Homo sapiens: one gene and its partners. The protein of the gene in region 7 interacts with the protein of the main gene of each other region in a biochemical or structural test. Each region holds a gene or a part of one and is shown on either strand. Other genes may lie near its edges.

What was found.
Region 1: the proteins of UBE2D1 (region 7) and TOPORS form a complex in vitro, tested with the Homo sapiens proteins (3 studies listed by BioGRID).
Region 2: the proteins of UBE2D1 (region 7) and RNF114 form a complex in vitro, tested with the Homo sapiens proteins (3 studies listed by BioGRID, with this or other methods).
Region 3: the proteins of UBE2D1 (region 7) and MUL1 form a complex in vitro, tested with the Homo sapiens proteins (4 studies listed by BioGRID).
Region 4: the proteins of UBE2D1 (region 7) and SMURF2 form a complex in vitro, tested with the Homo sapiens proteins (4 studies listed by BioGRID, with this or other methods).
Region 5: the proteins of UBE2D1 (region 7) and SMURF1 form a complex in vitro, tested with the Homo sapiens proteins (3 studies listed by BioGRID, with this or other methods).
Region 6: the proteins of UBE2D1 (region 7) and PRKN form a complex in vitro, tested with the Homo sapiens proteins (3 studies listed by BioGRID).

Annotation. Positions count from the first base shown.
Region 1 is NC_000009.12:32,540,044-32,542,586, forward strand, and holds the end of TOPORS (E3 ubiquitin-protein ligase Topors), read right to left. Parts: coding exon 1,344-2,543; 3' UTR 501-1,343; downstream 1-500. UniProt on the Homo sapiens protein: Functions as an E3 ubiquitin-protein ligase and as an E3 SUMO1-protein ligase. Probable tumor suppressor involved in cell growth, cell proliferation and apoptosis that regulates p53/TP53 stability through ubiquitin-dependent degradation.
Region 2 is NC_000020.11:49,946,397-49,949,896, forward strand, and holds part of RNF114 (E3 ubiquitin-protein ligase RNF114), read left to right. Parts: intron 1-2,851; coding exon 2,852-2,959; intron 2,960-3,500. UniProt on the Homo sapiens protein: E3 ubiquitin-protein ligase that promotes the ubiquitination of various substrates. In turn, participates in the regulation of many biological processes including cell cycle, apoptosis, osteoclastogenesis as well as innate or adaptive immunity.
Region 3 is NC_000001.11:20,505,352-20,509,455, reverse strand, and holds the start of MUL1 (mitochondrial ubiquitin ligase activator of NFKB 1), read left to right. Parts: upstream 1-1,304; 5' UTR 1,305-1,431; coding exon 1,432-1,551; exon of another isoform or gene 1,552-1,929; coding exon of another isoform or gene 1,930-1,932; intron 1,933-4,104. UniProt on the Homo sapiens protein: Exhibits weak E3 ubiquitin-protein ligase activity. E3 ubiquitin ligases accept ubiquitin from an E2 ubiquitin-conjugating enzyme in the form of a thioester and then directly transfer the ubiquitin to targeted substrates.
Region 4 is NC_000017.11:64,541,782-64,544,544, forward strand, and holds the end of SMURF2 (E3 ubiquitin-protein ligase SMURF2), read right to left. Parts: 3' UTR 501-2,763; downstream 1-500. UniProt on the Homo sapiens protein: E3 ubiquitin-protein ligase which accepts ubiquitin from an E2 ubiquitin-conjugating enzyme in the form of a thioester and then directly transfers the ubiquitin to targeted substrates.
Region 5 is NC_000007.14:99,134,109-99,137,608, forward strand, and holds part of SMURF1 (E3 ubiquitin-protein ligase SMURF1), read right to left. Parts: intron 1-3,500. UniProt on the Homo sapiens protein: E3 ubiquitin-protein ligase that acts as a negative regulator of BMP signaling pathway. Mediates ubiquitination and degradation of SMAD1 and SMAD5, 2 receptor-regulated SMADs specific for the BMP pathway.
Region 6 is NC_000006.12:161,346,917-161,349,841, forward strand, and holds the end of PRKN (E3 ubiquitin-protein ligase parkin), read right to left. Parts: 3' UTR 501-2,925; downstream 1-500. UniProt on the Homo sapiens protein: Functions within a multiprotein E3 ubiquitin ligase complex, catalyzing the covalent attachment of ubiquitin moieties onto substrate proteins. Substrates include SYT11 and VDAC1.
Region 7 is NC_000010.11:58,341,506-58,345,005, reverse strand, and holds part of UBE2D1 (ubiquitin-conjugating enzyme E2 D1), read right to left. Parts: intron 1-3,500.

The DNA of each region.
Region 1 (2,543 bases), on a different chromosome or scaffold from region 7:
GGGAGGCTGAGGCGGGCGGATCACGGTCAGGGGTTTGAGACCAGTCTGGCCAACATAGTGAAACCCCGCCTCTACTAAAAACACAAAAATTAACCGGACATGGTGGCGCGTGCCTGTAGTCCCAGCTACTCCGGAGGCTGAGGCAGGAGAATCGCTTGAACCCGGGAGGCAGAGGTTGTGGTGAAGTGAGATTGCACCACTGAACTCCAGCCTAGGCAACAGAGCCAGACTCCAACTCAAAAAAAAAAACAACAACAACAACAAAAAAAAAAACCCCAAAACTTAGTGCAGAACCTGCCACATAGTAGGCACTGCAATTTCTACTGAATAAAGAATGAATACAGTAGCAAGGCAAAGGCAAACTGAAGGCTGAATTAAGATTTAACTCAAGCTCCACTGTTCAGTGGCAATCCTACATCAGCATAGATGTAATTTTATCATCCCTAAAACAAGATAAAACATAACCACTTTATATGAAAGAACTACCAATGTAAAAGAAGTATGACAAGGGTTTTTCATGTTTATTTAGCAAGTTAAATGCTGTTTTTACTGATGATAGAAAGCAAATAAGATACTCCTCAAAATCAAAGAAAATAATTAAAACTATAAAGTATTTGTTCACCTGAAGTTCAGTATTTATGACATAATTATGCCCTTAGCTACTTTCAAGATTTTAACTTTACTAAAATAAACTTTAAAAAAAAATACTGCATAGGAAAATGTCTGATTCTTGTTTTAAAGTGTTACTGTTTTATTTTTTTTCTTTTGTTGAATACACATTTGTTTTACTGGCAGTCCAGATAAACAAGTATATAAAGGAAATAGTAAATTTTTATTTTGGCAGAAGATAAACTGTGCAGATTAAAATGCCTCAATTTAACCTGAAGAAATGGTTTTGAATCATATAAATTTTTAAGAAGAAAAATAAAGACTGTCCAAAGGGATTCTCCTAGCTTATAACACATTTCCAGAATAACTCTCAAAAAAAAAAAATTCAAAAATACTCATTGACTACCTTAAAAATATGTCAATACCGTATGGCTTTATGAAATAACTTCTAAAATTTATATAATTTTTCTTATTTAAAAAGGACCCCAAGTTTTAAATAAGCTGCTAGCAGTATCATTTTCTTCACTTAAAAGTGCATATCTTTGAGGGTGGGACATACATTTTGAACAAATAATGATTTTTACAAATTAACACCAAAAAAAAAATCATTTAAAATATTGTAAGGAGGAAGAGAGTTTTCACCAAATGTCATCTTTAAATAGACTGCAGTAGACGACATTCTTCCTTTTTCCTTTTTATAACATCATAATTCTCAATGAAATGCTTTGGCAGTTTTAAGACATATCACAGTCTCTACCAAGACATACTGACATTAATGATGTCCGTGGCGATGGCAATTGCCTTGATGGCTCAGTTTGAAGAGACACAATGTTACTGGGCTGGTTCTCCAAATCAGAAACAAAGGTGCTCTCTTCTCTTACATCGAGAGTTTGTTCAACTGAAGCTGCCAGAGGTGGAATATTATCTACAGTTTTGTTGGCATTATTCAAGTTGTTACTAAGTGTGGCAATATCACATTCCTTGTCCAGCACACCAAATTCAGCTTCTATTGTAACTACATCTTTAGTTTCAAATGGTTCCAAGGAAGGAGCCAAAAACTCATTTTGTAGAGGGTCTTGAGGACCACTATTGTCACATTCTGTATCCTCCTTTACTTCAGAATCCTTATCACTGTCACTGTCAATGGTAATTACAACTGGGGAACGTGAAGCATTATCTCCATGGTGTTTCTTATGCTTCTTCTTATGTTTCTTCTTTTTCTTTTTATGGTGTTTAGTTGTATCAGTAGCTTTTCCTTCATAAACTATCTCTACACTTAGGCTCCGGGTCTTCCTTTTTCTCCTTTTGTGTTTTGTCTCTCTGTCTGATGATCGGCTGTCTGAAAAGGTATCACTCTCATTTTTGTAGTTTCCATCCAATTTTGATGAAGATTTTTGGTAATGACTGTCCTTTGCTTTAGAAGCAAATTCACGAGATGGCTGAGCCACTTCGTTAGTACCCTCCAAATGCCGTGTTTTGTATTTTCGTTTCCCTCCAGGCTTTTCATTTCTCACCCGGTCAGTCCCGGTAGATGCAGTCCTTGATCTGTTACTAGACAGGCTCCTTGATCTGTGCCTTTCATAGTAGTAATACTTCCTCTCACTGTGATTATTTTTTTTCCTAGCATTTGTTCTTTCAGAAAAGGACTGAACTCTAAATTCTGGACTTGAAGACTGTCTAGAATAATGAGCTCTGGACAGAGTCCTCCTCCTGTAAGATGATTCGTACCCATCCCTGTCCTTGTTTCTACTGTAATAAGTATACTCCCATTTGTATCTGCTTCCATAATTATTTCTTAAATAATAACGATCTCTATTTCTGCTCCGTGATCTTCTTTTACCATGATCACTGCTACGAGACCTTGATCTGCTTGTGCTTTCACTACTTAGAGACAGAGTTTGGCTTCTTCTGGACCAACTGCTATCTCTAGTTCT
Region 2 (3,500 bases), on a different chromosome or scaffold from region 7:
TGCTCTATAGTACACATTTTTTGCTGACCACTTGGGAATAAGCTACAGATACCATGACCATTTTTGCACCCTGAATACTTCGCACCCTGATACAGGAGTGTGTATGTCTTAAGAACAAGAATGTTTTCTTGGAAAATTATATTTTTGTGTGTATAATTAATCATATTCAAGAAATTTAACATTGATTCAATCTAATGTCTAATGTGAAATTCATGTTTTAATTTTAACAATTGTAATGTCTTTCATAGCAATTTCCCCCTCCCCCCAAGGCAGAGGCAGGGATGGTACACGAGTTCTCTGTCCTCTGGGTGCTACATTAAGTCATGTGATGTCTGTTGTTGGTAACATTAACTTGGTTCCCTTGGTGTCCACCAAATTTCTCCATGAAGCTGCCATTTTATTTTTGGAAGTAGCTTCTTCATAGTTGTGGGGAAAGAGGATTTAGGTGAAATTATTAGGAAAAGGCTTATCAATCCTTGGACATTTTACTCAGATATTACCTACTGGCATGTGTAGTCTCCTTTAAAAAAAAAAAAATGTAGGCTGGGCACGGTGGCTCACACCTGTAATCCCAGCACTTTGGGAGGCCAAGGCGGGTGGATCAGTTGAGGTCAGGAGTTCAAGATCAGCCTGGCTAACATGGTGAAACCCCATCTCTACTAAAAATACAAAAATTAGCCAGGCATGGTGGCGGGCGCCTTTAATCCCAGCTACTTGGGAGGCTGAGGCATGAGAATTGCTTGAACCTGGGAGGCAGAAGTTGCAGTGAACTGAGATCCTGCCACTGCACTCTAGTCTGGGCAGCAGAACAAAACTGCCCCCCCCCCCCCCCCCCCCCCCAAAAAAGTATTTGTTCCATCTTAGCAATGTGTTACCTTTCTCTCTCAATGTGATTGACAGACCAGGTCTTTTTTTATAGTTAGGTGTATACTTCCTCTATAGTTTTAATTTTTCCATTTATCTCATACTGCTTCTCTTGAACTACATACTCTGTTGTATGGGCAGCCTTCAGCTCCATTGCTGTAAACAGTGGTGCAGAAATTTTAGAATTTTAATGAGCTTTTGTGAGAGTACTAGGGCAGCTATCAATGCTCATCTTAAGATGGAACTGGCCATTTTGAGAAACATATCTTTGCCTGTATCTATGTATGTTTATAAGCTAAAGTCTTAGATACAGATTGACTTGGTTAAATGTTACTTGCACTCATAATTTTGTTGGATACTGTTATTGCTGAACTTTTCTGGTATGGCAGCCTAATTTTCTGTCTTTTTCCCCTCCTTTGGCTTCTGAAATCCCTCTGATTATGTTGTCTATGTTGAGGCCTTCTCTTCAGCCTTTGGCCCTCTGTTCTGTCTTCCTCTCCCTCTGCAAGTTTTTTTTTTTTTTTTTTTTTTTTTTTTTTTTTTTTTTTTGAGGCGGAGTTTCGCTCTGTCGCCCAGGCTGGAGTGCAGTGGCGCGATCTCGACTCACTGCAAGCTCCGCCTCCCGGGTTCACGCCATTCTCCTGCCTCAGCCTCCCGTGTAGCTGGGACTACAGGTGCGCGCCACCATGCCCGGCTAATTTTTGTATTTATGGTAGAGACGGGGTTTCACCGTGTTAGCCAGGATGGTCTCGATCTCCTGACCTCGTGATCCGCCCGTCTCGGCCTCCCAAAGTGCTGGGATTACAGGCGTGAGCCACCGCGCCCGGCCCTCTGCAAGTTCTTAACTCTGCGTTTCTCCCTTCCCTTTAGAAGCCATCTCCTTTTCAGTCTCTAGTCCCACCCTATGTTCTAGCTCCCCAGCTACAGCTGCCTGCCCACCTTTTCCACTCAGTCTTCTACCATTCCAGATTTCTCTCTTGTCAATCCCCTTTATCACTGTATCTTCCTTGCTGTGGGGTAGGGTTCCACCTTTAAGTGGGGGCACTTAGGTCTTCTCTCTCCCTGGCATGAGTTTTCTGCACTCACTGGTCTGGTTGTTTACATGTGTTGACAGTAACTGCCGCCTTCTGGCCTTTTCTCCGTGCTGCTGCCTCTCTTCTGGAGCACAATTTTTTTTTTTTTTTTTTTAAGACAGAGTCTCACTCTGTCACCCAGGCTGGAGGCTGGAGTGCAGTGGCACAATCTTGGCTCACTGCAACCTCCACTTCCAGGGTTCAAGCGATTCTCATGCCTCAGCCTCTCAGGTAGCTGGGACTACAGGCGTGTGCCACCATGCAAGGCTAATTTTTGTATTTTTAGTAGAGAAGATGTTTCACTATGTTGGCCAGGCTGGTCTCAAACTCCTGACCTCAGGTGATCTACCGCTTTGGCCTCCCAAAGTGCTGGGATTACAAGTGTGAGCCACTGTGCCCGGCCTGGAGCACTCTTTCATGTCCTCTTTGCCTTTCCAAATACTTCCCAATCTTCAAAAACCAAATCAACCTTTTGTGTGAGGGCTTTTCAGCCTGATCCCCCTCTTCTGAGCATTTCCTTTGTTAAGATGCATGTAAGGCTGTGTTTTACTTCCCTGGGACATTGCTCATCGGCTTATTTTCTTAGTTTTCCTCATGCTTTTGGATTGTCTTGTGTGCTGGATTGGAAGGCCAGTCTAGGCCCCCCACCAGGCTGACTCACTTCTCTGCTTACAGTAGGGAATGAGAAAGGGTGGTATCATGATTTGAACTTTACCCAGTCCCACGTGTCATTTGACTTGAGCTGGAAATTTGCAGTGTTTTTTTGGGCTGCTGATGTGCACAGGAAGGAGTTACTGGCCCTGGACAGTATGTCAGGAAAGCTGTCCTGGAAGAAAGGAGGCCAGACACAGGCCACAGAGGGCTGGTGCAAGCTTGGAAATTGGGTGCCTAAGACCTTGCTTTTGTGTTGAAAGGTTTGTCCGATATGTGCCTCGATGCCCTGGGGAGACCCCAACTACCGCAGCGCCAACTTCAGAGAGCACATCCAGCGCCGGCACCGGTTTTCTTATGACACTTTTGTGGTAAGTCTGGAGCCTGGGCTCTGATCCCTCCCCTGGGGGAGTGGCACGGCTACTTCACTCTTCTCAAAAGGGGAAATGGGGATCCCCAGTGTTGAACTTTGTCGCTGTTGTGATGGGCTTCCAGTCTGTATACTGGATACAGTGATAAAGGGGATTGACAAGAGAGAAAAGAAGACTGAGTGGAAGAGGCGGGCAGGCAGCTGTAGCTGGGGAGCTAGATGGGCTTCCAGTCTGTATACTGTAGCTACTATACAGTTTCTATTCATGGGCCAGGCAGGTGGCCAGAGTGACATTTATTTACTTACATGAGATGGAGTCTTGCTCTGTCGCCCAGGCTGGAATGCAGTGGCGTGATCTCAGCTCACTGCAGCCTCCACCTCCCGGGTTCAAGTGATTCTCCTGCCTCAGCCTCCTGAGTAGCTGGGACTACAGGCGCATGCCACCATGCCCCATTACTTTTTGTACTTTCAGTAGAGACAGGCTTTCACTATGTTGGCCAGGCTGGTCTCGAACTCCTGACCTCGTGATCTGCCCACCTTGG
Region 3 (4,104 bases), on a different chromosome or scaffold from region 7:
AGACAATGTTGATCAAGATTAATGGTGCCAACACCCATTGACCTAGCAATTCTACCTCTAGAAATTCTCCCTACATAAATACTTATACATGTAAACATGAAAATACAAGAATTTAGGCTTGGTGTGGTGACTCACGCCTGTAATCCCAGCACTTTGGGAAGGCAAGTCAGGAGGATCACTTGAGCCCAGGAGTTCCAGACCAGCATGGCCAACATAGTGAGACCTTGACTCTACAAAAAATTTTTTAAAAAATTAGCCGGGGGTGGCATGCATCTTTAGTCCTAACTACTGGGGAGGCTGAGGTGGGAGGATTGCGGGGTGGGAGGCTGCAGGGAGCTATGATTGCACCACTGCACTCCAGCCTGGGCGACAGAGCAAGACCCTGTCTCAAACAAATAAAAAAATTAAAGCATAACCTGTAGGAGATAGCTCAATGAATGCTGATGTTTAGAAGAAAGATTTGGGTTATCTCCGATTATTTTAGAAAGGAGATGCATTACAGAGATCAGGGAACAGTCTCTGAGAAGGATCCCCTGGGTTTTATGGCCATACCTATTGCTTTTAGCTGTATAACCTTGAGCAAGTTACTTACCTGAGCCTCAGTTTCTTTATCGGTAATCTGCATTATAGCTGTGTTGTGAAGGTTCAGTGGGATGGTGCCTGCAAAACCTCCCCCGCCTCGAACCTGACACATAATAGGCACTAAGCGTAGCCGTAATTATTATTTAATAAATATGTTGTTCTATGTGGTGATGGCAGATTAAGGGGCTACTTTGGTGATATAATCTGCCCTCCTGGGGTAGAGTTGAGGGCTTTGGAGTTGGGTGAATTCCTCTCTAGCACTCACTAGACTTCGAGCACATCATTCCCTAACCTCTATGGCCTCACTTTTCTCATCTGTAAAGTGGCCAGAATAAATTCCAAGTCTTGAGAGTTTGCTCTGAAACTTAAACGTATATTACTCATAAGAGTTTAATACACAATTATTTTATTTCCTGCCAATCTAATGGCGAAGACATGGAATAACCCATCAAACAGCCCAGTAACCCCAGGAAACCAGAGGGACGGAAACCAGGGCGATGGGCGAGTCAGTCATGGCCAGTGCGCCGTGTTTCGAAGGGGACGGCCATGGAGCGGTGGGTGGTCGCTCAGCTCCCCAATCGCTCTCCGACACCCGGCTGGGGAGACAGGACCTCCCTGGAGGCCGCAGCAGCTTGATTGTCACCCGGGCAACCCCACCTTCCGGTTCCCTCTACAACCCCTTGCCCCGCTTCCGGTTCCGGCGTCGTGCGTCATCGCTGGGCGACTGATTTCGAGTTTCCGGTCAGGTTAGGCCGGGGGGGTGCGGTCCTGGTCGGAAGGAGGTGGAGAGTCGGGGGTCACCAGGCCTATCCTTGGCGCCACAGTCGGCCACCGGGGCTCGCCGCCGTCATGGAGAGCGGAGGGCGGCCCTCGCTGTGCCAGTTCATCCTCCTGGGCACCACCTCTGTGGTCACCGCCGCCCTGTACTCCGTGTACCGGCAGAAGGCCCGGGTCTCCCAAGAGCTCAAGGTCAGTGCTGGAGCCGGCCTGGCCTCAGCCGGGTCATCTCTGTCCCAGGTGCTGGGGAGCCCATGATTCACCTTGGCCGCCCCACCGTCGGAAACTGTCCAAAAAAGGAAACAGCCTCTGAAGGGTGTCATCCAGCCAGTAGATGGAGGAGCGAGGGGCAGGATTCGGGCTCGGGATAACGGCTGCTCCGCTCCTTTTCTCCCAAGTCCCTCTTATGACTCAGAATGAATCTTGACTTCATTACTTTACTCGAAAAATATTTATTGAACACCTGCGATGCTCCAGGCAGTGAGTCGAACAGATGAAAGTCCATCCCCTCGTGGAGATACCATTTTAGTACGACTAGACAGCAAACATGTAAATCAGGCGGTGTAACAGATGGTGAGCAATGCTTTAGAGTAAGGTAGGGGAGAGAGGACATGGAATGCTGGAGAAAGGGGGATCTCCTATCTTAAATAAGGTGACATTTGAGCAGAGCCTAGGAGGAGATGAGGGGAGTCATGCAGATATCTAGCGGGAGATGGAAGGAACAGCAAGTGCAGACATCCATTTACTGAACCACTCCACTCCTTGCTTTACAGACGCTTCCTTTTTATATTACAACTATTTTTATAAATGGCGCTTTTTTCTGAACTGTGCTTTACGGTTTACACAACACATTTGCATTTATTTTTATTTTTTATTTTTTCGAGATGGAGTCTTGCTGTGTCGCCCAGGCTGGAGTGCAGTGGCGGGATCTGGGCTCACTGCAGCCCCTGCCTCCCGGGTTCAAGTGATTCTCCTGCTTCAGCCTCCCGAGTAGCTGGGATTACCACGCCCAGCTAACTTTTTTGTATTTTAGTAGACACAGGGTTTCACCATGTTGGCCAGGCTGGTCTCCAGCTCCTGACGTCGGGTGATCTCCCCGCCTCGGCTCTCCGAAGCGTTGGGATGTAAAGGCGTGAGCCACTGCGCCCAGCCACATTTTCATCTTGATTTTATTTTTTTCTTAACAATAATTTTTTTTCCTTTCTTTCCTCTCCTTTTCTTTTCTTTTTCTTTTTCTTTTTTTTTTTGAGACGGAGTCTCGCTCTGTTGCCCAGGCTGGAGTGCAATGGCACGATCTTGGCTCACTGCAACCTCTGCCTCCCGCGTTCAAGTGATTTTCCTGCCTCAGCCTCCGGAGTAGCTGGGATTACAGGTACCTGCCACCACGCCTGGCTAATTTTTGTATTTTTAGTAGAGATGGGGTTTTGCCATGTTGGCCAGGCTGGTCTCCAACTCCTGACTTCAGGTGATCCCTCTGTCTCAGCCTCCCAAAGTGCTGGGATTACAGGCGTGAGCCACTGCGCCTGGCCCACAATAATTTTTTGAAGTAAATAAAATGACAGTTACCACCACATTGCAAATCAGAAAATTGAGATTTGGAGGAAAGGCCATACAGCTAGTCAGCTTGAAACTTAAATTTAGGTCTTTTGATTCCAAGGGTAGGATTTTAATCTGATTGACATTGCTTTATTGTGACTATCTGACTGGTCCAGAGAGATGGACCTCTTTAGGTCAGAGACAGGGTCTTATTCATCCATTCTCTTTCCTCTAGCTTCTAACACAGTACTTGGCAAGTGGTAGATGCTCAGTAAATGTTTGTGGGTTCTTTTTGGCTGAAGTTTCACAATACAAGAGCTAAGGGCCTAACCTAATTTGATGTTTATATGAAAGATGGATTCCTAAACCTGACTAACTTAATTATCAGATTGTTTTCAGTAAGGGTTTAGAAACTAATGTGTGGGCCAGGCTACTCCAGCCTGGGTGACAAGAGCAGGACTCCATCTCAGAAAAAAAAGAAACCAATGTGTGAACTCCAGTCCCTGCCATGAAGGGAGTTTTGGAATCTGGAAAGAACCAAGTTATGAGGCAATTGGATTTGCTGTGCAGTGGCGTTATAGTGAGATTCCAGCTGCCCTGTATTTCTCCTGATTAAATAATCAAGTTAATCCTGAAGTGATTAGCTCTGTGTATCTGATACTTCACTTTCTGACTCCAAACCACTTTGGCCTCAAGTTGGCTGGAGGAGGGCTTCTTTGAAGCAGTGAACTCTTTAGGTCTCATCTTTGGGTGACCTTAAAACCTTTGCCAAACAGTTCCTAAATGAGGATGAAATAGCCCCTTCCTGGAAAAAAAGTTGGGACTGTTAATATTTTAGATTCTATTTTCTATTTCCTTCCTCTCTTTCTCCCTCCCTTCCTTCCTTTTCTTTCTCTTTGGCCTTCCTTCCTGTCCTTCATTTCTTTCTTCTTTCTTTTTTTCTTTTTCCTCTTCTTTTTTTTTTTTTTTTTTTTTTTTGAGACATGGTCTTACTCTGTTGCCCAGGCTGGAGTGCAGTGGCACAAACATAGCTCATTGCAGCCTCGAGCTCCCAGGCCCATGCCAGTCTCCTGCCTCAGCCTCCTAAGTAGCTAGGACTACAGGTGCACACCACCACCTCCAGCTAATTTTTTATTTTTCATAGAGATGGGGTCTTGCATGTTGCTCATGCTAGTTTTGCACTGCTGGCCTCAAGCAGCTATCCCACTT
Region 4 (2,763 bases), on a different chromosome or scaffold from region 7:
TAGAGTTAGCTGGACTTTAGTCCACTATCATTAATACAGTAGTGAATTATAAACCTTAAAATCCACAGCTTCTAGAAAAAATACAATTGATTTCTCCTTTTCATTTTGAGAATTTTACTGCTCGACATACCAAGGTAGGGCTGGCAAATATGAGCCCCTGTCATAGGCCTGCCCTACAGAGCGGAGATGTATTATAGCAAAGATGGTTGCAGACTGGTGACAGGACCAAGATGCTCTTCCCCACTAGCCCCTGACCCCCCTCAGAAATCCACCTATGCGGTACCCCCAACAGGTACTACCAACTGAGCAGTCACCACGGCCGGAGAAAACGGGCACCTTCCCTGCTCTGCGAGGAGACAGAAAGCTGAGCTCTGCAACATGACAGAGGCATCAACTCAGGATGGCATGTGTTCTTGAACTTTTCATTTTGTGACTCATGTTGTCACCCTCCATAGAGCCAACCATAAATGTTTTCAAAACGATTCATTACAAACTCAATATTCTTTAAAAACGTTGATGCTGTGACAGTGCAAACAGCATTGATTTTATTGCTCGACTTCGGCATGGGCACATACATAGTTAATTTTTAAAAACCATTTATACAGATGTTACTGATAAAGCTCATGTAACAAATGAATGAAAATACAAAGAATATCAAAGCTAAAACACTCTGTAATAAATACAAATACAATGAAAATGATAAAACTTTGTTTTTAAAGTCAGTCTGAGAGAAGAATATTACATAAAGTGAACTAATTACATCTAGAAATAAAACAACTCAGCATTTGGAACAATCATCCTAACATGTTAAATACCACAAATGGCACCCGTTGACTGTACGCTTAGAAAACAAGCAGAAGGAGCCACTCTCCCAAACTAAGGATGGTTGGAACAGCCTCTAACTCCCAACAATCCAATCAGTCCAATGCACTGGAAATTCAAAGCCCAGATTTAGTGTTGTAAAGTAAAGCGAATTACATTGTATTTGAAAGAAGAGAATCTTGTGCTCCGGACTGTAAATACATGAAAGAAAAAAAGGCTTGGTAAAAAACCCATTCGGGGCAACAAACTATGTGCAAAACAAAATGTACACTATACACTATACACTATGCACTATTTAAAAACTACACCAAGATACAAGGCCCTCTGAGGCAAGACTTACCTCTCTGTACTGCCTATGAGCTCTACAAAGGAATCTCTGTTCATAACTAAGCATTCATGATGGAAAGGCAAGAGTATGAAAACAGATATCACATATCTGAAATAACAATACAGCTAGAGGGAAGACAAGAAAAAACCAGTTAAGAGGGACATGGAAATAAATATTCACATTAAACATGAGGTGCAAGTCCATGGTTCAATAATACATTGGGGGTTTTTGCTTAGCACCTATTTGGAAGTAATCGGGTAATGTAACTTTGAAATGGAAATCTAAATCATGTTTTTATATATGTTGGTGATAACATAGACTGTTATGGAGAGTAATTTCTTTTTTTTTTTTTTTTGGGCGGGGACGGAGTCTCACTCTTGTCGCCCAGGCTGGAGTGCAGTGGTGCGATCTCGGCTCACTGCAATCTCTGCCTCCCAGATTCAAGCAATTCTCCTGCCTCAGCCTCCCAAGTAGTTGGATTACAGGAGTGCGCCACCATGCCCGGCTAAATTTTGTATTTTTAGTAGAGACAGGGTTTCACCACGTTGGCCAGGCTGGTCTCGAACTCCTGACCTCAGGTGATCCGCCCACCTCGGCCTCCCAAAGTGCTGGGATTACAGGTGTGAGCCACCATGCCCAGCCAATTTCTTTCTTTTAAAGCTCTATTAAGTCATTAGTATAAAGTTAAAAAGGCACTCAAAAAGCAATGGTATTTGCCTGCTTTATATTGTATATTAAAATAAGTGATAGTAGCATTTCATTATTACTGTATCCCTGTCAGTTATGATTTCTGTATTCATTATGTACTTTTTTACTGAAAGATTTTAAAAGTAGGCACAATTATAAACTGCACTAGTGCTTTAATATAAAAGAGAGATGGGTCTGCAACCAGTAAAGTACTATCATGACAGCTGAACATTACTGATTATCAAATAGCATAGAAACCACTTCCATACATTTCAAGATGCTCTTCAGTACTCAGAATGCAATGTAAAAAAAACAAATTGTTTGAGAGGAAAAAGGTAGGCATAAGCATATTACCACTGCACAGTTACAACTATGACTAGCTTGCTTGTGGCAGTTGAATTTGGCCAAATGAAATACATTAAAATACTTAAAAACTACACAAGTAGTTCTCAACTTTTTTAAAGCAGCAAAATCTCCACTTTTTTTATCCCATCCATTCCTCCCCGCCCCACTGCACCCCATGAAAGCTTACTTGAAATTCCAATATACATAAGAAAAATGGGCTGTTCTGGGTAAAGGGGGTGGGGATATGGAGCCTAAGGCCCCTGCTCAAATACCAACTAGGCCTTCCCCCTCGCTCCCTCTCATTGCCCCTCTTCTCTTAAACCATTACTCCTGAGGCACCCCTGAGGAACCCTTTGGCTCCAAGAACACAGACTGAAACCCACTCCATCACATGAAACAGAACACAGAGGACCTATTTACTTGATAACTTTAAATTTTGCAGCTTAATTATCATGAAAATTTGCTTATTTCACATCAATGTAAAAAAAAACTGATAGTACATATTTTTGATGGTTGAATTTAAAAATCCAACTGTGATTTCAGATTTTTTCAATCCCTCACCCCAGAGTTTTCGTTGCTTC
Region 5 (3,500 bases), on a different chromosome or scaffold from region 7:
TTTTTTTTTGAGACAGGGTCTCGCTCTGTAAGGCTAAACGTGCCTTATTTCCAGAGTTTTTTGGTTTTGTTTCGTTTTTTTTTGCAAATTCTACTCCTGAGCAATTTGTTTATTTTTCTCTTTTCCCCAATCCTTAGAATCTGTGAACAATTTCCTGGTTTTGATATTATACCAGAGTTTTACAAGGGACTAAAACTTCTACCCATGTTTACAGGTATTTCCTCACCAGGCTCAAGTGAGGAACCACGCGAGAACCCTTTGGAAACTATGAAACACTGTACAGACGGGAGGTATTAGTATCACTGACAGGTATGAACAGGCAGCAAGCAGGTCTCACCTCTATAATTTGTAGGTAATATATGTAGAAATAAAATTGAGTAAACTTTGGATTTTTTTTACCCCAAAGACCTAAGAGGGGAAAAAAGCAAATATATCACATTGAAGTTACCATGTTTTCTACTTCTACAGAGCCAGATGCCAATATTGCTTTTTAAAGCACTTCTAAAATTAAAAACAATCCCTTAAAAAAGTTCATGGCAAACACATTGACTATAAATACTTGGAAAAATACTAAATTATTATTACTGGCTTATGCAAATGAGCATTTTACTCCTATTTTAAAGATGAGATTATTTTATAAAAATAGGTCAGAGATAACCCCAAATGACATTCTAAATAAATTATGTAAACCACTATTATTCAGAACCAAGACCTCAGTTTTTTAAAGAACTCACTATATAAACAAGATCTAGAGTCCAAATTTCTTAATCTGAAAGTAATCATTTTGCCTTATTTTAATATGATAGAACAAGCTTTTTGGGGGGTCAGGCAACTCGCTATTACATAATAAACATACTCTCTGGGAAAATAAGTCTGTTCAGAGCTATAAGACAAGTAGCCAAGAATTTTATTCTGTAGAACCCAGGAATCTTCCTAGTGAGGAAGTCCTTATAAATATGAGTATGTACTTTGAAATGCTATAATATTTTAGCCTTTTAAAATACATTCGGCACAATCATTTTGATTTTTCAGAATGTCTACATTTCAAAACAATTGGCAGTTAGTGTACTTACTAGTTGCTCTAAGAAATTCTTATCTATTTAAGAGCTTTTTAATCTTTTTAATTGTTGAAAAGCAATACATGCTCAAGGGGGTGAGAAAAGGGAGGAGATTAAATATTACAAAAGGCATATAATGAAAAGTCACCCTCTCTTCTCTCTTTTCTCTCCTCTCTCCCTCTCTCCTCTCTCTTTCCTCTGAAGAGGAGAACAGGAGAATCTCTTCAAAGGAAATCAACAGTCAAAATCTTTCAGTCGTATTCTATACAGACCTATCTATAGATTTCCCCCTTTATTTTTATTTCTTGTTTTATTATTCAAATAGTACACACACTAGCCTCTGTTTTGAATCATGCTTTTTCCCCCCACTCAATAATATATCTTGGAGAATGTTCCATATCAGAATATAAAACACTATCTTATTATGTTACAGCTACACATCATTGGGAATACACGATAATTTACTTAACTAGTCCCTGCTGATACACATTCACATTGATTTCAGTCTTTTATAATTTCAAACAATGCTGCAATGATTTTACACACCGGACTTTACATAAATGTGTGAAAACACCCATAAGAAAAAAGTCCTACATGCAGAATTGCTAGATCAAAGAGCATAAACATTTATGATCTGATAGACAGTGCCAAACTGCTCTTGGTACCTACTCTATCAATTTATATTCTCAACCACTAGAGTAAAAGACCTGTTTTTCCACACTCTTGTCTCATCACAGAAGATTTTCAATCTCTTTGATCTGCCACTCTTCTAGATGAAAAATTGTTTCATTCTTACTTTTAATTTGTAGTTTGTTTAGTATGAATAGGGCTGATTATCAATTAAAAATAAATTTTTAGAGAAAGAAAATGGGCATAAGAGAGAACAGGGCACAGCGGCATATACTTGCAGTCCCAGCTACTCAGGAAGCTGATGATCGCTTGAGCCCAGGAGTTCCAGGCTGCAGTGAGCTATGATCACGCCAGTGTACTCTAGCCTAGCCTGGGCGACAGAGCAAGACCCCATCTCTAAAGAAGAAAAGGAAAGAAGAAGAGAGAAAATAGGGTTGTCTTTTCACATGTTTCAAATCCATTTCCATTTTCTTTTCTGTGAATTGTCCATATTCTTTGCCTATTAGGTACTGGCCTTTTCCTAATTGATTTTGAAGGCTCTTTATATATTAGGAAAACCAGACTTTCATTTTCGTATCCATTACAGATTGTTGTTCCTAGTTTGTCTTTGCATGTTGATTTTATCCTATTTTTTGCCATGGAGAAATTTTCCATCCAGCTAAAGTTTTTTATTGTTTATAAGTGTTTTTCAGCTGATCTTTTGGGCTTTTAAAGATATATCATAACGTCTATAAATAACAGCAATTTTGTTTCCTGCTTTCTGATGTCTTTCTCTAGTTATTAATAATAACTATTTTGACAGTGTACATCCCTGCATTGTTCCTGATTTTAATGGGAATGTTTCCACAATTTCATCATTTAAAGATGATGCTGGCTAGGTGCAGTGGCTCATGCCTGTAATCCACGTACTTTGGGAGGCTGAGGCAGGTGGATTGCTTGAGCTCAGGAATTCAAGACCAGCCGGGCAACAGGGCGAAACCCCATCTCTACCAAAACTACAATGATTAGCCAGCCGTGGTGGCACATGCCTGTGGTCTCAGCTACTCGGGAGGCTGAGGTGGGAGGATCACTGGAGCCCAAGAAGTCGAGGCTGCAGTGAGCTGTTATGGTGCCACTGCACCCCAGTCTGGGTAACAGAGTGAGACCCCATCTCCAAACAAAACAAAAAATAAACATGATACTGTCCGATGGCACATTACCTGGCCTGGGAAAAACATAAAATAAAAATAAAGATAATACTGGTTTTGGCTTCTAACACTATTTCTCTAAGGAATTTCTGAATACATAATTTATCAATTCATTGTATTATTTTTCCATGTTTATTAACCGGTTCTATAGATTTTCTTCAATGTCAAAGTACGTTATTAGCTTTATTATTTACCTGGCTATTTAGGAATAAGACATAACAGGAATCTATGACTGTATTAATACTGTGCTACTCTATAAATAATTCATAACTACTCATTAAAATATTTAATCCATCTCTAGCAGGTCCTTTTGTGCTCTAAAAAGACAGATCTCTGGCATTAAAGATAGGAAAACTGAATCATGAAAAGATCATAATCCTATGCACCCCCTCCCCTTTCTTCATTGTGGTACTTGTGTGAATTAGAAATCAAATTCAGACCTTCTGATCCCCAGTCCAGTGTTGGAACCACAGGAAAGCATCATGCCCTTTAGAGAACTCAGCGGATGCCCAACATACAAAGAACGCAGGCTGCCATCTACAATCTGCAGCTTCGTGACATGCTCCTCCAGACTCCTGAAAGCAAGCTGCAAGTTGGGCTCCGGAGCTTAAAACATCTGAAATGC
Region 6 (2,925 bases), on a different chromosome or scaffold from region 7:
CTCATTGTGAAATAAACAATGCATGGCCACTAAAGCAGTTCTTTGAAAATGCAGCGTCAACACACCCACATTGACAGCAATGCAAAGTCACTGAAATTTTCTAGAATGACATGAGAAAAAATCCTTATAGATAGTCTTTTCCAATGCAAACTTCTCTTTTAAACACTTTTATTAGAAAAGTTTGCTAGTAAGGCAGGAAAGTAACTTTTAGATTTTTATGAATGAGGGTTTGCTTTTTGGAACCCTTTCAAATTTTGATAGCCTTAAAAAACTACTCTTATTTAACAAAGAGAAACAGCCAGCGGTAATCTGGAGCTTGGAGTTGATATGAGAATGGCTATTTCATCACCAGGTAATTCCTCCAGGTCACTGAATGGCTATTTCATCACCAGGTAATTCCTCCAGGCCACAAGTGAGGCCCATGGAGTAATACAGCCTGTGATTCCCTCCGTCACCCTTCACATTGATTGAAAATGTATCTTCAAAGACAGACTCAGAAGCTCTTTTGATGCTTTATTGACAATTTAAGTACAATCTTAGAGTTGTCAGATAATCTCAACACACTTCAGAGAAAAACAGACTTTTTCTGCAAAGACTTTATTTCTATTTTTTGATACATTCATATTTTGTTACACCCTTCCTGTGCAAATAATACTGTGATTCATGTTCATGTGTAGTGGATGATCTTGCTTTTTTGTTTTTGTTTTTTTTTTTTTTTTGAGACAGAGTCTCACTCTGTTGCCCAGGCTGGAGTTCAGTGGCGTGATCTCGGCTCACTGCAACCTCTGCCCCCCGGGTTCAAGTGATTCTCCTGCCTCAGCCTCCCAGGAAGCTGGGATTACAGGTGCCTGCCACCACGCCCAGCTAATTTTTGTATTTTTAATAGAGACGGGGTTTCATCATCTTGGCCAGGCTGGTCTTGAACTCCTGACCTCGTGATCCACCCACCTCGGCCTCCCAAAGTGCTGGGATTACAGGCATGAGCCACCGCGCCCGGCCTGCTCTAACTTATTTTAAGAATCACTGTTCTATTCTGGAAAGGGAAAAGACCACCACCAAGAAGGGAAAGGAGACCATGCTGGACAGCCTAATAGTCTAACAGGGGATCCTAGGGTGCCTGAGCTCATGGGAGCAAACCTTGTTCAGGCACCGCAAGCCCAACGCAGCATGCAGATTGGGAAGGCGCAATAATGCAAACACCATCAGGAAGAAAGCTATGGATGATGGAAAACACTGTGTGCTCCACGTGACAGAAGGGAGCCACCTGATTTGTCGCATCGGGCCAGTGTAAGGAAGTGTAATTTAGTGGGACTGCCAGTGACACTAAGTCAGGCCTTGATCAGGGTCTGGACTCAGTATGGACACGAGCCACTGGGTGCAGGGGGCTCATGCCTGCCACCTCTCTTTTTTTCCCTTACTATAGAGACTTTGATCTGTCCACCATTTCTATGTGAGCTTTGGGCTTCCTGTCACAGGTCTGTTGTCACCGTGGGGCCATGTTGGAGTCGGTAGATTTTCAGACAGTGAAGCCACATGAAGCTGTGAATGCTGATGTGGCTGCTGCAGAGCCCAGTCTCTCCCCGGTGCAGGGCCTCTGAGACGACGGGACTGTCCTCAGATGGTTGGAAGAAATGGGTTATCTTAGGCAGTTAGGAAAAGAGGGACAGGTGTCCCAGGATGTGGAAAACTTGAGTTCATCCCCTCTCTTCCCTCCAGCAAGGATTTCAGTGCTACATCTAAAAAGAGAAGCCCTGTTGCCGATTTAATAATTTACAGTCTCTAAATCCAAAAGGGCCTCCATGTGCTAGTGAGACTCATGCCCTCAGTTATGTTCACGATCTTCCTGAGAAGTCAGACAATACAGGTAGAACAAAAGATAGTGGTTGTACTTTCTCTTCTGCGTAGTGTGGGTAAGAGCATGCGGTTTGCCGCATGCAGTGTTGTTAATCTTTTGATTGTGTTGTGAATGGCTGAAAAAAAAGCTGAAAGTTTGATTGAACTGAAATCCAATCCATGTCAACATAAGGAATATTCTAGTGAGTTTACTGTCCTAAGAGAAGGTCTCTCCTGGGGAACCCCTGGTATGCAGAGCTCCCTGGGACTTGCAGATTGGACAGAGAGGGTGTGCCAAAGGGGTATAAACCCTTCTGATGGAGAGAGTCGGGCGTGTCTTCATTTTGGTAGTTCTGGAAAGGCTCCTCTTTAAAGATTCTGATTTAATAATGTTCACTTTTGTTAAGATTGAATATCATTTTGAAATCATTTCTAAACGTGTTTCCTTTATAGGCACTTTATCTATTAAATTTACAGTGGAGCCAAATGTATTAGCAAAATCTCCAAGTTGCAAAATGAATACTCAGAATCAAACTATAGATTTTTTGGTGATACTTTCAGAAAAACAATTTCTTTCTAAAGTTGCAAATCATGAAAGGGAATGAAAGTACATTAACTTGATTTCTTCCCTGTAATTCAAACATTCAACATTCAAATTAACTTTCATAATTTCTCACTTTGTGACAAGTTGATTTACGCATAGTTGGTATTTCATTAATGCGATTTATATAGATGGAATTCTTAAGGATAAACAAATGTTTTTGACTATTGCCTGGGGTTCTTTGGGAATAGATGCTTTCTGAAAATTTAAATAAGAACATTACTGTTAAAGCCATGAATCTAGTTTGGAGAACCCACTGCAGTTCATTTTACAGAGAAACACCTTGTCAATGGCATCTTCATGGTGTTTACTGAAGGTAAAAGGCAGGATATTAAATGTGAGAACTCTCTCTCCAGCTACTGATTCTGCCTGTCTCGAATTCAGGTGAGAATGACCCATACAGATACATGGATTGCACTTGAATCTGTGCTCTGGTATTTGTGTCATCCGGAGGCTGAGAACGCCTGTTGGTGGTGTCGCAGATGGCTCTG
Region 7 (3,500 bases):
GTAGACCCAGCTACTCAGGGGGCTGAGACATGAGAATCCCCTAAACGCAGGAGGTGGAGGTTGCAGTGAGCTGAGATCATGCCACTGCAGTCCAGCCTGGGTGACAGAGCCAGACTTTGTCATTAAAAAAAAAAAAAACAAAAAAACTATTACCTATAAGGCAGCTGTGCAGCTGTGTATGGCAGTTGTCTAAATATGTGGATAAAACAATCTTAAGTACAAAAGCTAACAAATAGAGAAAAGCTAAATGGAATTAGAGAACCACGTTATGTTACCAGTGCAATAATAGAAATACATTTTATTTGCATCATAAATAATTGCTCTTTAGTTAGAGAATAAGATTTATTGACCTTATACATTAAGAGATGTCAACATTTATTTCAAATCTGATATTTCAAAGTAAATGGAATTTTAAGTCAAGTCTAATATAGCTCCATAGCACAGTGCCAAAGCTCAGTGTTTGTTTTTGTGATCACTGTTGTTTGCTGCAAAAAAAAAAACAGCAAATACATTATTTAGGTTTGCCTAAAATTATGATTCAGAAGAGATGACAGAAAGTATCAAGTTCAATCCATTAAGTTTCCAAGTGAGGAGTATAAAGACTGAGTCTCCTGGCCAAGGTCACAAAGCCAAACTAGGACAAAGGGACAGACCATCTGACTTCTACTCCAGCACTCTTCCCACCCCAATTCAATACTCACCTCAACACTGTAACAGCTAGAGCACATTATTTTCAACCAACACTGAAGCAAACAATGCTCCAGTACTGTATTAAGGCCATTTGCACATTTTTAGCTATGCTCCAGAGAAACAAAAGTGTGATAAGTGAAGGAATGAGAAGGAATTCTTATCTTTTCTCAGGAGCTTATATCATATAAAAGGTTAGAAACGAATACTATTTCATAAGCTTTCAGGAGCGTTGTGTTTAAAGACACTCTGAGAGTCAAGAAAAACTTTACAGGAAATTATACACAACTTAAATAAATAGAATTTTCACATAAAATATGCAAATGGAGCATTTTGAGTGCTCCATTATCAAAACTTACTATTTACTTTACAGTAACCAAAAAAAGATGGAAGAAAAAAGAGAGAAAACCTAGCTGCCTATTTATTAAAACGTGTGTAAAACATGAACATGCCTACCAATACCTACCAAATATTTGTTATTAAATATTGCTTCTTACAGCTCTATACCTAATAACTGGCATATAGTGGGCACTTGAGTGTTTCATAATAAATTCTCTACTCTCTGTTAGTATCATCCAGTATTATTCTTGAATATTATGGTTGTACATCAGTCACTAAAATGCTGCTACTTGTAGAAGAAAACAATGCATACGGTCTGTATCAAATGCAAACGTTTCCAAGGCTAGAACAGTTTACATTATGTGTATATGTGTATCAATATATTTGTGTGTCTCTGTGTATGTGTATATGTATTCATTTGCTCTCCCTATATATGTATACATGTATATGTATGGTTGTATGGCATGTATTTTTAACATTAATTTTACCTAAGGATCTTATGTTATGGAACAGTGATTTTCCAGCTTTCCTTACAGCAATTTATAATATGAAAAAGATTTTACATTACAACCTAGTACACACACACACACTAAAACAAATTTCATGAAACAACACCCTTACTATATGCAAAGCACTAATATTTTCTATTCCATTTTAAAAAGTGGATGTTTATTATTCACTAAACTGTTTGGAAACTCATAAAAGAGAAAAAAAAAGATACTGGGAAGGTGTACACCTTAGTTTGGCATCCATTTCTTAGAAATAACCTACAGTCAATAGATACCAACTGGAAAATACCAAAATGAAGTCTACAAACTATTAACCATCATTCATTCAAAAGTGCTGTTGAGCACCTGAAAAGGCTGGGTCATAAAACAAGTCCCCACTTGGGAGGCTAAGGCAGGTGGATCACCTGAGGTCAGAAGTTTAAGACCAGCCTGACCAACATGGTGAAACCTTGTCTCTACTAAAAATACAAAAAATTAGCTGGGTGTGGTGGTGGGCGCCTGTAATCCCAGCTACTTGGGAGACTGAGGCAGGAGAATTGCTTGAACCCAGGAAGCAGAGGTTGCAGTGAGCCGAGATCGCGCCACTGTACTCCAGCCTGGGCGACAAGAGCAAACTTCATCTCAAAAAAAAAAAAACAAAAAAAAAACCAAAAAAAACAAGTACCCACAATTTAAAAGGAGTCAAATAATAATAGAATTTGTTCTCTGACCATAATGGAATTAGAAATCAACAACAGAAAGCTATCTGTAAAATCTCCAAACATATGGCAAATAAATAACGTATTTCTAAATAATCCAAGGGTCAAAGAAGAGATAAAAAGGAAAACTAGAAAATATCTTTAAATTTAAGTGAAAACAAAATACAGCAAAATTTGGGAGAAGCAAAAACACAAGCCAGAGATTTCCTGGTTTAAGAGAAGAGAAGAAAAATGAACCCAGACCATTTGTTAGGTCCACTTGGTTTTCTCTAGACAATCCAACCATACTACTCCCAAACTCTGCTCGCATAAGGAGGGTGGCCACCTAGAATGAGAACAATCAGATTATTATCTGAGGAAGCTTAAGGTGAAGGAACCAACTCCTCAGCTCACCCCCACTGGAGAAGTTTCTTAAGTCTGAAAAAAAACCCAGGAATCTAAATAAGAACTGTGGTGTCACTAAAAGAGATGAGCCATACAAACGGGACCATATGAATAGAGGACAGTGGGAAATACATCCAGAAAGAGGTAAGACAAGAGGATGCAGAGCATGATGGTGGAATGGACAGCACTAGACTGTATGCTTCTAGATAGCAGCTTCCTCCCCATACTAAGGACAATCCTGGAACACAACAGCCTGTTATTGTCTAATGTGTGAAACTGAACCTTCACAGATTCATCTCAGAACCAAATTAAGCACAGAAAAACCTTAGCTTCTCAGAGACCATCAAGACCAAGATGGGCCAGAAATAAAACCTGTCCTGCCTTCAGACACATGTGCTAAGGTGGCCTGAGGACCTACCCCTCCAATTCCCAAACTGCAAATATGGTCATATTATATATTCTAGTATCATTTATTCCAGCATTTCACAGGAGAGGAGAGAGGATAAGTATCTCAATTCCTGTTGTTAATTCAATGTAATCAGTTTATTCACTATTAAAAAGGCAGGGACTATTACATTAGTAGATGACCATTAACTCAGTTTTATGGCTAAATATTAGGTTTATCATTTCTATTAGTAGCACTCATTAAATGAAAATAAAGGGCCCATATGTTTTCTATGCGTATTTCAGGGAACTAAAGCGAGTAAGGACGCTATTTTGCTTTCCTGGAGGCAATCCCACATCCTGCTAGGTTTGGTTTTCATATGTGCCTGGCTTCTTAAAATAGGCATAAACAGCTTTATTTAGTTCTAGGCTATTTATTTCCACAGAGAAGAAATCTCAGAACTTTTTAACTGTCATAGGTTACCTCATTTTTTTATAC